Linked DNA regions of Homo sapiens: region 2 is linked to region 1. The links come from fine-mapping of genetic effects on gene expression. Tissue or cell type: lung. Region 1 holds a variant in brackets; the other region holds the start of a gene. All regions are shown on one strand. Distances are between the middles of the regions.

Region 1 (8,201 bases):
GCTGGCAGCCTGTAGGTTGATCACGGTAAGGGATGGTCACAAGAACAATCTAGGCAGGATTAGAGGGTTGGGATTACCTGCCCCATCCCTCAATCTCCAGGGAAAGGAAAGGGAGCCACAGGTTAAACTGATCATCAGTGGTCAGTGATTTAACCAGTCATGCCTACATTATGAAGCTTCCATAAAAACCCAAAAGGACTGGGTTCATCAAACTTCCAGATAGCTGAACACTGGAGGTTCCTGTAGGATGAGCCCCTTCCTATATAACCTTGTCCTATGCATTTCTTCACCTGCATCCTTTGTAATATCCTTTATTACTACAAACGTGTTTCCCTAAGTTCTGTGAGCTGCCCTAGCAAATTAATTGAACGCAAGGAGGGGGTCATAGGAACCCCGATTTATAGCTAGTCAGAAGCACAAGTAAAACAACCTGGGGTTTGCAACTGGCATTGGAAGTGGGGAGCAATTTTGTAGGGCTGAGCCCTCAACCTGTGGGATCTTATGCTGTCTCCAGGTAGATAGTGTCAGAATTGGGTTGCCCTAGAGGTCACCCACCTGGTATTCACTGGGTTGCCCTAGAGGTCACCCACCTGGTATTCACTGAAGAACTTATTGCTTGCCTGGTGTGTGTGTGTGTGTGTGTGTGTGTGTGTGTGTGTGTGTAGATCCCCACACATCTGGTCTTAGAACTGTTTTGTGTTGTGTGAGTGGAGTAGGAGAAACAGTTTGTTTTTCCTCTTTGTCACCTGAGTGTGTTATCAGGGACTGGATTGTGAGAATCCAGAGTGTGAGACCAGGGTATATCAATGTGTGAGAGAAATAGATGTGCCTGTGTGAAAGATGAACAAGTATGAGGCTCCCTGGAGTCTGAGAAAGATCATGTGTGTGTCTGAGTAAAAGCAAGAGACTAGACTGAGAGTTCAGTGATTGGGAGAGACTGGGGTATGTTGGTGTGAGTGTGTGAGAGACCAATGGGTATGTGAGAGACTAGAGTATGTCTCTGTCTGGACTGGTAGGTTGTGAGAGGGTGTATCACAGTATGAAAAAGATTGGAGTGAGAGTGACCAGTATGTATTTTGTGTGCATGAGATAAAGCAGTTGGAATATGAGAGATCAGAGTGTGTTTGTGTATCTGTGTGAGACACTGGAGCATTTGAGTAACTGAGGCCTCTTTGAAAGATACCATTGAATGTGTATGTATGAGAGACCATCATGTTTATATGTGTGAAAGAGGGAGAGAAAGACTAGTGATGTGGTTGTGTGAGAGACCAAAATGGGTGAGAAAGAAACTATGTGAACCATGGTGTGTTATCCAAAAGGCTTTACAAATATAACCTCTGTGAGGTTGTGAAGCATGCATGTGTGAGTGAGACAGAGATAAGGGACAGTGAGCTGTGTGTGTGAGAGAAGTAAGATTGGGGGTATGTGTGAAGGTGTTGGTGAATCACCACGTGTGCTTATATTCATGTCCTCAGGCAATGGAAATGTGACTGTGTATATGTGCTTGTTTTGGGGTGCTTGTGATTGTGTCCTCCGTGTGACCATGAAACCTGTGTTAGTGTTTGTATGTCACCCTGTATACCCATAATTGTGGCCCTGTATGACTGCTGTGTATGGAGAGACTACTTGGAAGATTGATAGGATTGGATTCTTTATGAGTGTGGCTGTTTGGAATTGTGTGTTGCCGGGATAGGAAATGTGGAATAGAATTCCTGTCCCCAGTCCAAGGGTTTCAGTAAGAAGCAAAGCTGGGGTGACTGAAGCTCCTAACTGAAGCAGGAGACACCCTCACTTCTGTGTGACAGGAGGGTAATTAAGGGGCTGGGACAGAGGTGAGAGTGAAAGTGGCAGAATTGAGTGCTAAAGGTTCCATCGTTTCAGGGTGAGGAAAGTGAAACAGTGCCGGGGGGTGGGTCAGGGATGCAGTGGTGGGGATTGAGTGAAGAAGGAGGATAACCCTGGCCTCTGGTGGCATTTGGGAGTCAGATTTTCCTTTTTCTTTTGTTTTTTTTTTTTTCCCAAAAACCCCATCCATCTGGCCCAGAAAGGAGCCAGATTTTCAAACAGTAGACTTTCAAAGCATGAAGCAGAGACCCAAGAAGAGAATGACTCCACCTTTACCTGTAAAATGGAGGAAATGACTATTTTATAGGATTATTTGAAAAATAAAGTGAGATAATCTAATCTATGCAGAGTACCTAATGCATCTGAATGGGAAGGTAGCTCTTTGAAAAAGATTAAATTTAGGACCTCAAGCATGAAAAAAAAAAACCGTTATGAGTTTTAGCCCTTCAGTGGCCATAGGTTGCTCATACCCAGTTATGGGATCAACCAAAGCTGGGAAGAAGAAGACAGTTTTAGGCTAGTGATTCTGGGAGTGCAGCATCTCTGGCCTCATCTCTCTCTAACCTTTCCCTTCCTTCAGCCTTGCCCTCCCAAGACACTGTTCTTCAAGAGAAAGACCAGAAGAGAAGGCAAAAATGAATGTTGAAGTAGTAAAAGTCATGCCCCAGGTTAGTGGATATTTTCTTTCTCTTCATGAAAGGCAGTCTTGCTGTTTAGGACTTTTTGTAATGCTTCTTTTCTTTTGAAAATTCCCTGATTAACAGTCCAGGAGCCTAGTTCCCACTTCTCTCAGGGGCCACTGTCTTTAACTCTAATTACCTAATGAGTGAGTAATAGCTTAGTATAAAAAGTCATGGAGGTCCCTCTGAGATTCCTCTTCCCACCTTGTGTACATTTTAAATTTAGTGTTGACTCTTGTGAAAAGACTTGATTTATGTTGTGTGGAATATACATGTGGATATGTTAGTACTAGTGAGTTGGGCTCCAGGTTAAATGTGCATGCAGTGCGTTTCCTATATATAGAATGCATTAGGAATTATTCCTCTACCTGAAGTTTTCTCCAAATCTCTAATTATGTCCTTAAGATAAATTCTTTAAAAGTTTTTCTTTACATTTTAAGTATGAATTACCAACCTCATTCGTTCACCTGAAAAATCTTATTCTACTTAATTTTTGCAAATTTTATAAATTTAAATAGGTGAGAAGTTGACATGGTACAAAATTTACAAACAAATTTCACCCTTAACTCCCAGTTATTTTAAGAAGTTATTCTCACCATGTATCTCATTCAGAGCTATGTTATGCCTTTGCGTGTATACAAAAATACTTTCTTCCCTTCAAAGTTAATGATTTTTCGTGTCTTGTTGATGAAATTTTTGTCTACCTTTAGGTCCTATTTTTCTTCTAAGATTTGTTTTATCCTTCACAGTTAAGTTTCTGGTAAGCTTAGACTTGATTTTTGTGGTTTTCTATCATGGTAGGGCTGAAATTACATTAACTTTTTATGTTAAATTTAATTTACATTAGATTTTTACATTTAATTTACATTACATTTTTACATTACATGTATAATTTATAATAAGTGAGGCAGAGATTTATTTTTTCAAGTTGGCACAATGGCATTAATTGAATTATTCATCTCATTCTCACTAATTTGAAATGCCACCTATATCATGCACTAAATTCCTGTGTGTATTTGGTTCTGTTGCTGTACTACACTCAGTTTTACTTGAATTTCTGCTTTTAATCTTTTAATTTTTAAATATTATATTGCACATGTATAAGAAACAATGTATAAAAAGGAATCCTTAATTCTCCCACTGTGAAATTCCCCTCCTCACATTTTTTCTAAGTGGAAAATGTGTTTTCATGACA[T/C]ACATGAGTGTCAGATGTCCATAATTAATGCTTAATTAATTTATATGCTTCATATGGAAAGTTACGTTAAATTAATTTTGAAACACTGCTTTTTTTTCTTGTGCTGTCAGAGTTCATGAGATATTAAAAAACATTTACATGGATTCTGGGCATCTGTGTCTTCCTCAGCATTAAAACCATTTTGTGAGTTACCTAACATAATTTTCCAAAGATACAGACCTTTTAGTTTGTGTGCCTCATGTTGTCATTAAAATTCTACCTGAAGTCACAAGCACCATACACAACAGAATTAGTCCCCTCCAATTTGCCCTATAGAAGTAAGTTGGGATCTCCACAATACAACTTACTGTCTTTAGTTTTGATATTTAACCTCATACTCCTGAATAATGTTCCATACACTATTTCTTGATTATTTTAGTTTTAGAAATGATCCAGTAACCTACTACTATAGATGATAAAGATGCAGTCCATTAACCCCACCACCTGAAATGCACACACACATGCTTATTTGATAGACTGTAAACATTATTCACTATTTTTGTTTTAAGTCAGTGTTCAGCGTAGCTTGGTGTCTTTCATCAATTTGGAAATTTTTCAACCACAAATATTCTGAAACTTTCCTCTTTTTCTAAGATCACAATTATATACATAACTGACACTGTTTTATATGTCACTTATGCTTTAATTCTCTCTTTAATTCTCTAATCTCCTGTTAAGCCCATAATGGAATTCTTAACTTCTGTTATTGCATACTTAGTTCTAGAATTTCTATTTAATTGTTTTATGTAATTTTCTATTTTCTTCCTGAATTCACTACCTTTCCTTTTAGCTCCTTAAAAATATTATCATAATATTTTGGTATCCTTGTTGGATAATTCCATTATCTGGATCTCTTATGTGTTTCTATTTTGTGATGTTTTGAAAATTATCTTGTTTTTTGTCTTAAATGCCTCATTTTGGGTTTAGTGCTAGACTTTATATATTTTTAAAAGATAGTTTGAAGCTTTGATGTCCTCCTCTTGAGAAGGTCTACTTAAAAAATAAATTTTATTTTTTAGAATAGTTTTAGATTTGTAGAAAAATTGCAGAGATAGTGTAGAGAAATCTTATACCACACCAAGCTTCCCCTATTAATATTTTACATTAGTGTGGTACTTTTGTTAAAATTAATGAACCAATATTGATATGTTATTAGTAACTAAAGTCCGTGCTTAGTTTAGATTTTCTTTCATTGTTTTAACTTTTTAATTTTTTTTTTTTTTTTTTTTTTGAGACAGAGTTTCACTCTGTCACCCAGGCTGGAGTGCAGTGGCAGGATCATAGCACACTATAACCTGCCTCTCCAGTTCAAGCAATTCTCGTGCCTCGGCCACTCGAGTAGCTGGGATTATAGGCATGCACCACCATGCACAGCCAATTTTTGTATTTTTGGTAGAGGTGGGGTTTTGCCATGTTGTCCTTGCCATGCTATGTAGGCTGGTCTTGAGCTCCTGGCCTCAAGTGATCTACCGGCCTTGGCCTCCCAAAGTGCTGGGATTATAAGTGTAAGCCACTGCACCCGGCCAGGCTTTCTTAGGTTTTATCTAATGTTTTTTTTCTGTGCCAGGATTCTATCTAGGAAATTACATTACATTTAATAGTCATATTTCCTAAGACTCCTCTTAGCTGTGATAGTTTTTCATACTTTGCTTATCGATGACCTTGTCAGCTTTGAGGAATACTCAGTTATTTTGTAGAATGTCTCAAATCTGATGCTTTTTCATGATTAGACTAGGGTACTGTGTTTTGGGGAGGAAGACTGCAGAGGTAAAGTTCCTTTTTCATCACATCAAATCAGGGGTGCACACTGTAAACATGATTTATTACTGTTGATGTTAATAGATGTTAACTTAATTAACTTTGAGGTAGTGTTTGTCAGGTTTCTCTATAATAAGGTTACTCTTTTTTCCCTCACTTTTCCATACTGTACTGTTTGTAAGGAAGTCACTATGCACAACCTACACTCCAGAAGTGGGAAATTATGTTCTACCTCCTTAAGGGCAAACATAAATCATTTGAAAGATCTTCTAAATGAGATATTTGCCTATTTTCCTCATTTATTTATTTAGTCTTAATTTAGTCACTTACTCAGTATTAATCCTCCTGGAAATTTCATAAATTATCTGATACCTTGCAATAAATGGTTGTGTCCTTAAAAAGAAAAAAGAATTACAAGCTCTTCAGATGCTATCCATTGGGATTTACTTCATTGGTTATAGCATTATCAGTTAAAAAAAATCACTACATATACATGCATACATATATGTAAAGTTATTCTATAGATATTGGTAAAATTCTGGTAGTATATATACTAGATTACTAACCATAAGTACCAGGATCAAAAGCAGTTTTTTCTGTGGGAACAGCCAAAGCTCCTCTGTCCTTAATAGTCAGCAAAATTATCCTAAATATTGGAAAGAATGTGAACACCTTTTGCTTGCATTGAGGAATACATCTCATTTTATAAGAATATGTGAAATGATGGTTCTTAGTTCTCAACTCACTAGAAGGTGAAAACTAGAATTCAGTAAAACTGTGAGTACACAGAGAAATGTAAACAATTTTGTAATTCTTTTATATGAAAAATATATTAAACATTTTCCTAAAGGTATGTATATCTTCTAAAGTCCCGTACATTGAATATCTGTTTAAAATGTGCTTTTAAACACTAATCTTCAGAACAAAGACATGATACAGAGATTACTGTTTAAAGCGAATTAAAATGTGCTCATAACCTTGTCTTTAGTTATATTTTTGATAACTTTGCAAATCAGGCACTAAGATTAAGAAGATATTCATTTTCAACGGAAGTAAATCTGAAGGTGAAAAATGCCCACAATAACTTTTAAAATTTCTTACAAGCTGCTGGTGATTATAACTGGTCATTAATTTTTCTCTAAGAATATTTAAAAGTTATAACTTCAATTTCATTTTGTTCTGCAACTGTGGGTTCTACCAACCGTGGGTGGAAAACACAGTATTCACTGATGCAGACCTAAGAAAATTGCATTCTTAAACATGTTTTTATTATTTAAGAAAAAAAAATCAGCTACATTAGTTCAATGCCTTTCTCCAGCCCCTGCCAATAAAACTTGGATCCCATGGAGTATCATTTGAAAAATATCAGTTTAGATATTCCTTTTATGCTTTTGAAGATTCAACACAGGTGTGTGTTCTCCCTTGAAGCCGTCTTCACTGCCTTGTAGTTATGCACCCATATTTCCCTATGTTCGGAATCGATTGGCCCCATTGTACCCAATGCAGTTAAACACTTCCATAAGTACTGTTTTGGCTTGGATCTTCCTATTTATGTTTTTTCTCTTCTATGAGTTATTTCTCACCTAAAGTAGAGACACTTTGGATCAACTCAGAGTTATCTTTGGACACGAGCATTGGTTGGTTAAGAATATATTTGTCACTTCAGGACTTAGTGACATTCAAGGATGTGGCAATAGATTTTTCCCAGGAAGAATGGCAATGGATGAACCCTGCTCAGAAGCGTTTATACAGGAGTATGATGTTGGAGAACTATCAGAGCCTGGTATCACTTGGTGAGGATCTTTTCCCTCCTGCATAATCTACCTTTAAGGAACTTTTTTGTCTATATATTATTAAATTTGCTTTTATTATATGTAGGTCAGAATGGAATTTGGGAATGGAATCTGAGAAACAGAGGATATTGAGGGACTGAAGAAAACTTGAGATTTAGAGTTAGTGAATTTGGAGAATATCAAATATTCCATGCATACACCCTTAAGGCAATTGGGAACACAAGACACAATGTGAATCTCACCAGTCTCCTCAGTTTCCTTGTTCTCTCTCTCCTACAGAATTACTATCACCACTAGACAACAACAAGGTTCACAAAGAATATATAGCTAGATTACTATAAATTCAGAATATCACTTTTAAAATCTGTATCTTTGTATTAAGTAACAAACTGAAGACACAAACTGAAAATGGCTTCAGATCACTTACTGTTAGGGAAATTCCTATGGACCTTTCTTCTAAGCACTGGGGCCACCCCATTGGCTAGATTAGCTTTCTGTTCTCCAGAAGCCCTTTTGATTATGCTTGTGGTTCATTGAGCTTCTTGAAACTAAATTTATATCTTAAACCAAATTTGGGAGATTTTTAGCCATTATTTCTTCAAATCTTTTTTTCTGTTCTTTTCTGTTTTGGACTTCAGTTACACCTATGTTAGATTGTTTGATATTGTGCCCTAGGTAACTAAGGATTGTTTCACTTTTAAAAATCTTTGTTCTGTTTTAATTTTAATTTTTCTCTCGCTCTCTTTTTTTTTTTTTTTTTGAGACAGTCTTGCTCTGTTGCCCAGGCTGGAGGGCAGTGGCGCAATCTTGGCCCACCACCTCCCAGGTTCAAGCAATTCTCCTGCCTTAGCCTCCCAAGTAGCTGGATTACAGGCACCCACCACCACACCC
Region 2 (8,163 bases), 25 kb after region 1:
GATTTCTGGTTTGTTCTTGCAGTTGATCTGGAGCTAAAATTCATAATCGGAAATGGTATTGTATTTTGAATTTTAGTTACTGCCTGTTCATTGCTCTGAAGCAGTGTTTTTCTCCCCCCAACTTTTTTTCCTTTGTGCTTCAGATTGGATAATTGCCATCAATCTCTCTTCAAGTTCACTTAGTCTTACTTCTTTTGTTTCCATTCTGCTTTTAAGCCCAGTGAATTTTTTATTTCACATGCTGTGTATCTCAGTTTGATGAAGGCCAATTTATCACTCTACTGCTTTTAAAGTAGGCTCACAAAATCTAACCTAAGTGAGGTTTCACCTCTTGGTCTGAGGCTTTTTTTTTCCATTTTCCAATTAATAATAAGTTATGAGTAAATATTATTTATAATAAAAGACAAAGTCTATGCCACTGCTTTCCATTTTCAGGACTACCTATGGAAACCTTTGCTTTCCAGTCTGATGTTGACAGACCATTTTAACCAAAGCTGAATGAAAGTATTTGGGGTTTATAATAATTTTATTCCATCTTCTTATCCAAGTAAGGAAGCTCTCCACCATTCCTAGTTTGCTAAGGCTTTTTCTTTTTAAAATCACAGGTGTGAGCTGCATTTTATCTCAATCATCTATTGAGATGATTCCAGGAACTGTTTCATCCTTATTTATTAATAGTGGTGAATGATATTAACAGGCTCCCCACCGTGGCACTCCTGTGATAACTTCTTGGCAGTATGTACTGTTGGTTACCTGCTTGGCATCCAGTCTCCTTTTTGTCTTTTCTAACAAAACTCAACTTGTGCTCAGGTGTCTCTTCCACCCTCAGATGATTCATCGAAAGCTGACTGAATTCCCAGTGACAGGAGTAGACTGCCCTTCATCTTAGCCAGATATCACAAGGCTATTCCTGAGTGACTAAGGAAAGACTTATGTCCCATGATGTGGTAAGGCCCTATGGACATAAAACATAAAATACCTCTCCAGAGAAAAATATAGAATCAGAAATTATGATTTTATAGAAAATTCATATTTTTAATCAGTAGATTCCTTGGATAACTAAATTCATTGGACTAAGTATTATTTCCCAAATCAAATGTCATTATGTTGTACATTCTGTTTGTTAAACATCTGACACCTAAGCATATGACATCCTTTCTTTGTGCTATAAATTTTATTTTTGCCTATTGTGAGTATATATTACTCTTTATACTGAATTTTTAAAAAAATTAATAAAACAATTTATAAATATGGCAAATGTGAAGATTGGCAGTAGTTCATAAGTTGTATCAGCTTAATCTAAATGATTCAGCCGGGAGATTATTCATCTTTCTTGTTGGTTTCTGTTTTTCAAAAAGCTATAGTTTTGGGTTTATAAAAAAAGCACAGTGTAACTCCTGGTGGTTAAGATGAGATATTTTGTCAACTTCCTGCTGCAGGAGAACTTAATAATGAAATTATTCTTATAGCTCTCTAAAAATTTGGATATATTGAAATATTTTTCTTCATAATTCTTTAGTGTGCTTCTGTTGCTTCTCTGCTAAATATGAACAAGGACGCATATAGCCCCATATAATAGGAAAATAGGATATAGCAGTCATTTGAGGATAAGTGACTGCTACAATAAGATAAAAAAGGTATTGTCAACTCTGTCAATAAAGAAGATAGATTTTATTGCCTTCTCAAGTAACAGCTTCCCATGTAGGTAGGTAGCAGGTCAAGGCAAGAAGACAGCTTTGCTCCATGATGTCATCAAAGGACCTGGTTCCTTCTATGCCATTTCTCCATCAACTCAGGATGCTGTCTTTATCCACATAGGTGATGCCTCTACATTCCAGAACATGAAAGTATTCTGACATATCTTCCTTGGACATGACATATTTTTCTATGTATTGCTGGACTTTGTTTATTGTCACTTTAGGTAGGATTTTAATGTGTATGTTGTCCCTGAAGATTGGAATTCTTTCCCTACTTAAATTCTTTCCCTACTGTCCTTGTCCAGTTTTGGTATCAAGGGTGTCTAGTTTTAAATTCTCCAGTATAGTTTTATAGGATAAGGATTATTTATTGCTTTGGTATTCATGGAAAAGCCTGAGAACTTATTTAATGATTTTCCATTTCTTCTTGAGTCAGTTTTGGTACTTATAATTTTCTCTATGGTAAGCCCCTGCATATGTTTTAAATATATTGAGATAAGGTGATCACAGTATTTGCAAAATTCTAAAAATTTCTGTGATTATGTCCACTTTTTCATTTCTAATACCATTTCTTTGATTGTTTATTTCTCTTTTTTTCTGCTAAGCCATCTTTAGCATAACTTTCATCCTCATGATGCCAAGGTGGCTGTTTGCAGCGGACCCTATCCTTGTTGGACTGAACAAAGGATGACAAACATGGGAATAAAGACAAAGACAAAAGAGTATATTTGGAAGAAGAGGTCTGGGGGCTCCTTGCTTCCAGTGAACACAGGCCCTGAGCCTTTACAGCCCTTCGTATTTATTAGAGTGAATAGGGAGAAGGGGGGTGGTTGTCGGTCAGTAGCTTGATTTACAGCAGGCTTGCAAGACTGCATTCGTCAACCAATAGGCTCTAGATGTCCCATTAGATAACCTCAAGGAGCATGACACCAGGGAGTGATTGCCTTCAGCAAACCTTCTGGTGGCTGGAGCAGAAGCGACTTTGCCCACATTCTGCATTCATGATAAACAGTTTGCTGTTTGATCATATAGCCTCCAGTGGAATGTTGAGTTGGCCACGATCCCTTTGCCAGCTCTCTACAGCTGTTCTACCTGTTGACATCCTGTGTCATACCCAAGCAGGAAGAAGGTTGTGTGAGATGACAAAAGGCCAGAGTTACATGCCAGCTGTGTCTCTTTCCACACATCCACCAAACCCCCAGCAAATGTGTACTTAAAATTCATTGGTTACAGAGCCACTACTCCTTACAAGGAGACTGGGGAGGTGAGTATTATAAGCTGGGCAGATGGCCACTTGAAGAGCATCAATGTTCTGCTGTGGAAGGAGTGCAAAATAGACACCAGAGAGACCATTAGCAGTGTCTGCCACAGCTATTACATGGCTAGGTCCACCTGACTGAAACTAAGCCTTTTCTATGAGACTGAAGTGCTTTGAGAGAAATGCTGACCTTGTCCTTTCTGCAGCTTGCGGCTTTCAGTCACCCTTGGATTCAGAGATAGAAGTCATCTTAATTCCATCACTGAGGCCAGGAGACCTGAAAGAAATCAATTCAAGAGTAAGGAGACCAGGCGTGCAGTGTGACTGGGCGTGCAGAGGTCAGTGCATCTGTGATGACTGGTGTAACAGCATCACTGCCTGTGAGCCAGCAAGGCCCTTGGCTCCCAGGATGAAGCTCTCCAGTTCTGATAAGGCCCCTGGGGGAGAGACCGGTCCTAAACATGTTCAAGAATAAATCCATCAGCTAACTTCAGACCGTGATTCACACAGGAAGGGAACTTTAAGAGGTCGCCAGGGCTGGTATTTTTGAGACGTTAGGCAGCCCTCTCTGAGGCGATGACAAGTGAATGGCATAAAGGAGCCAGCCCAGACGAAAATTTGGGGTTAGACTATTTCGACCCAGGACGTGCAAATACATAGGTTACAAAATGGAAAATGGTATTTTGGAGGATGGGAGGCCCGTGTAGCCAGAGATAATGGGAGAAGGTGAGGGGGCACCCAAAACAATCCCACAAGCTCTCTACATCCCCCTTCCTAGCCCACACACATCACCCATCAGAGTGATCCTCCGGACTCCGGAGGCCCCCAAGATTGCCTTTCCCTTCCCGGTCGGCAGTGACGCTCCCGCAAGGAGCTGACGCCCAGGCCCTTAGCACCTGTCACAGCCAAGCACCCTTTTACTCCGGCCCTGCGGTCCCACCCCTCGCCGCAAGCCCCGCCTCACCCGGTCTGCCGCTGCGCCTGCGCGACTCCCAGAAGCCTTTGGGGGGTGGGTGTGTAGTCAGAGCGGCCTCTGCTTCCGGCCACACCCAGGCCCAGCGTTGGCCACCACTTATGCGGCGGCTGCGGTCCAGGGACAAGTGAGAGCGACCCGCAGAGGGCAGGACGGACGGGCGTTGCATAGGCCCGGGGCCAAACCGTATCTTGCAACCTGAGCTCCGAGGGCCGCCGCATCCGTCCCTGCTTGGGACTACGCTTCCCAGCGGGCATTGCGCCGAGGCCACGCCCGGTTCCGGCGGCGCTGCCTGCGCACTGGAAGTGGGAAGCGCCGGGCTTCTCTAGGCTGAGGGGCGGGGCGGGGCGGGGCGGGGCGGGGCGGGGCGGGGCGGGGCGGGGCGGGGCGGGGCGGGGCAGCGGGGAGGGGTGGGGAGGGGCGGGGCGCGGCCGGGGGCGGGGCGGCTCCGCGGCGCGGCCCAGTGGATGCCGGGCCATGGGGGAGCGCGCGCGGGGCTGTTCGCTGGGCGTGGCGGGCGGGTGTGGCCAGGGGTGTGGGTCTGTGAGGGACCGGTCGGAAGGGCGTCGCGCGGCCTCGGGTGACATGCGGGGGGCGGCGAGCGCGAGTGTCCGCGAGCCGACGCCGCTCCCGGGTAGAGGCGCCCCCCGCACAAAGCCCCGGGCGGGCCGAGGCCCGACTGTAGGGACTCCAGCCACCTTGGCCCTCCCTGCCCGGGGAAGGCCGCGCTCAAGGAATGGCCTCGCATCCAAAGGCCAGCGAGGAGCGGCCCCTACGGGGCCTGGGCACAGAGGTGAGAGTGACAGGTGTTTGGGGCCGAGCGGACAGGGACGAATTCATCTCGGGATGAGATCTGGGAGGGGGTTGGGCTCTCGGGGACCAGTTGCTGGAGAACTGTGCCCCTGGTCTTTGAAGCTGGTGGAGTGGGAGAATCTGAAGATTTGGAAGCTCAACTGATTCAGAGCAGCAAGCCGCGGTAAAAGGGTGTTGACTTTCCCAGGGTGACTCTAACTAGACGCTTTTCCTGTTTTCGTGCTCCCAGGGAGGAAAAAAACCTATCTCCACGTTGTGGCAGTCCCTAGGCAGGGTAATGATCTGATCCCACCTTTTCATGCAGGAAGGGACGTTTCTAGGCTGGTGATTTGGGACTGTGGTGTAGACCTGGTCTCTAGCTACTCCTTTCTCTTTCAGCTCTGCCTTCCAGGGACACTGCTCTTCCCCAGGAGAGAAACAAGAAGCTGGAGGCTGTGGGGACAGGAATTGAACCTAAAGCCATGTCCCAGGTGAGTTGGCATTTCATCTCTTGTCTCTGAAATGCAGTCTTGCTTTTCGGGACTTAATGTTGCTTATTTTCTTGAAAGTTTTCAGTTTAAGAGACCTGTTTGGGCGCGGGTTTCTATTTCTTCACGTTCTAGTGAAGTGATGGGCTACGGGGAAAAGTTTAAACTGCCCGGGGCCTCGATGCCTGCTTCTTCTTCATCCCAATCAGCCTTCATTCTTGATTGATGAAATGATTCAGCCTCTCCCTTGTACCGCTTTTCTCAGAGGGACTCTGATGGAGGAATTGTGCCCCTTGAGGAACACGGCAGACTCTTCTGCTATACATGGTTTGTTTGGTGACCACTTTGTGCCAGCCACTGAGCAAACCAATAGCTAAGCCCTAGTCCCTGCTCTGGAGCTCACAGCCTGTTGACCCAATGTCAAGGAAACAAGCAAGATTCTAGAATGTGATCATCCTTGGGCCAAGTATTATGAGCGAGGACTACAAGGCGCTCCTGGCTTCCAGCCTCCTGTAGCGGAAGGGTAGGCCTATTTACCAAGGAGGTGATTTTTGAGCCTTGCCTTGAAGGGAGAGAAGATGTTTGGGAGGCACAGTAAAGAAAGACAACATTTTAGGGAGAGGAGGCGCAATATGAAAGGCTTTTCCACTTGATTTTGTGGCTTTAAAACATGCCAGTAAATAGTTGTGTTTGTTTCGGTTGGCTTCTCCTATAAATATCATAGCTAGCTCATTAATAGATGAACCATTTCACTTCCACTGAGGCCTCAAAAAATATATGTACAGATGAACCAGCTTCCAGTTGTCCTACCCAAACTGCTCTTGAGTGGGTTACTGTGATCTTCACATTACCAGATGCAGTGCTCAATTCTTAGTCTTTTTTGACTATCATTGGTATTTGAAATAGCTCAGAGGCTGGCAAACTTGTGCTGGATGAGGCCACAGCAGAAAATATGTTAGGCTTTGAAAGTCCTGCTGCATCTACTCCTTTCTGCTCTTATAGAGCTAAAGTAGCCAAAGACAATATGTAAATGAATGGATGGGCTGTGTTCCAGTAAAACTTCAGTTACAAAACAGGTGGCTACCTATCCCTCAAATAGCTCATCCCTGTCCTTCAATAGGCCCCCTTTTTTCCCTTGGCTACTGGGATCTCACACTCATCTGACTTTCATCTTCCTGACTGCTCAGTTTTTGCCACAGTTCTTACCTCCGTGACTTGAACAGAGTGTGCCTCAGCACTCTGCTCATGGCCCTTTCTTTTTTTGTCTGCATGCTGTCTCCTGGGGATAGTAGCCTGTTCCTTGTCTGTACAACCTACCCACATGGTGGCTCCTCCCAGATTCACATTGTGAGCCCAAACCTCTCCTCTGAGCCGCCGGCCTGTGTATCCTGCTCCACTCCTCTGCCTGAGTGTCTGATGGGTAACTCAAGACAGCCTGTCCAGACCCGAAGTCCTGAGAGTCTCCCATAAACCAGCTCCTCCCACAGTTTGAGTCTTAGTCAGTGGCCGTTTCATCCTCTCAGTTACTCAGTCCGGAAGCCTTGTCATGATTGGCTCATTTCTTGCCTTTTCCTTCCATATTTGGTCCTGATGCAAATCCTGTCAGTTCTATTTGCAAATTATGTGCAGAATCTGGCAGTTTTCATCACATCTATCACCAGCAGCAGGTCCAAGTCCTCCTTTTACTGTGGGCTTCTTGACTGTGCTTCTGTGACCTCCTGCTTCTGCTCACGCTCCCCACAGCCCCTTCCCGATGAGCAGCCAGAGGGGTCTATTCAAACATGTCACCTTGTGTCACGCTGTGCTCAGGACCCTCCAGTGGTTTCTCTGAATAAAAGCCAAAACTCTTCCTGTTACTGACCAGGCCCTACATGACCTGGCTCCTTGTTACCCCTGACATCTACATCACTCTCTTCTTTCTGAAAAATCGCCTTCTCATTTTCCTGCTCACCCTGTCTAGAATTTCAGAGCCTCCTACCTGTTCTTCACATCCCTCTTCCCTGCTTTGCTTTTTTCTTTTAGTACTTTTCTTTTGAGACAGAGTTTTGCTCTGTCACTCAGGCTGGAGTACAGTGGCGTGATCTCGGCTCACTGCAACCTCCGCCTCCTGAGTTGAAATGATTCTCCTTCCTCAGCCTCCCGAGTAGCCACCACACCTGGCTAATTTTTTTTTTTTTTTTTTTTTTTTTTTTTTTTAGAGACAGGGTTTCACCATGTTGGCCAGGCTGGTCTCGATTTCCTGACCTCAAGTGATCCGCCCACCTCAGCCTCCCAAAGTGCTGGGATTACAGCCATGAGCCACTGTGCCTGGCCCTCGTAGTACTTTTCAACATACTATATACAGAAATCCCACGTATACCAAAATTTGCACTTATTCATCAGCCATGTGGAGCCTGCAGATATGAGAAGTCAGCCCTCAGTGGACACAGGTTTTCCATACCACAAATAATCTTTTTTGAGACAAGGTCTCACTCTGTCACCCAGGCTGGAGTGCAGTGGTGCCATCACGGCTCACTGCAGCCTTGACCTCCCCAGGCTCAAGCAGTGCTCCCATCTCAGCCTCCGAAGTAGCTGGAATTACAGGCATGTGCCACCATGCCCAGCTAATTTTTGTATTTTTTGTAGAGATGGGGTTTTGCCATGTTTCCCAGGCTGGTCTCGAACTCCTGGCCTCAGGCAACCGCCCGCCTTGGGCTACCAAATTGCTGCGATTAGAGGTGTGATTCCCCGCGCCCAGACAATAATTGTATTTTCAGTCTGCATTTGGTTGAAAAAATTTGCATATAGGTGGACCCTTGCAGCCCAGATCCATGTTGTTCGAAGGTCAAATGTATTTTACTTAATTTATCTCAGTTTCTCTTGTCTCATTTCCTTACTTCATAGGCAAGGATTTGGGGCAGTTTTGCCTAATGTCTGATACAGAAAATATTTGGTGGATGAATGTTTGAATATAGT

The links. PIP is the estimated chance that this variant, and not a neighbour inherited with it, causes the effect.
Region 2: ZFP28 starts here. The variant in region 1 is fine-mapped to the expression of ZFP28 in lung (TOPMed, PIP above 0.99). The same link has a PIP of 0.9 or more in ovary, prostate, thyroid and tibial nerve.

What each region holds. Positions count from the first base shown.
Region 1 is chr19:56,509,092-56,517,292 of GRCh38, forward strand. It overlaps ZNF471 (zinc finger protein 471), which reads left to right. Exons shown (of 5, transcript NM_020813.4): 2 at 2,426-2,513; 3 at 7,184-7,310. The coding sequence starts at 2,481. Among named protein-coding and RNA genes, the nearest start is that of ZNF471, 5.3 kb to the left of the region's middle. The variant T/C (reference allele first, on the strand shown) is at 3,721.
Region 2 is chr19:56,534,506-56,542,668 of GRCh38, forward strand. It overlaps ZFP28 (ZFP28 zinc finger protein), which reads left to right and starts at 4,443. Exons shown (of 8, transcript NM_020828.2): 1 at 4,443-4,721; 2 at 5,120-5,211. The coding sequence starts at 4,514. ZFP28-DT (ZFP28 divergent transcript) reads right to left here and starts at 4,229. Exons shown (of 3, transcript NR_183967.1): 1 at 3,920-4,229; 2 at 3,146-3,232; 3 at 1,651-1,827.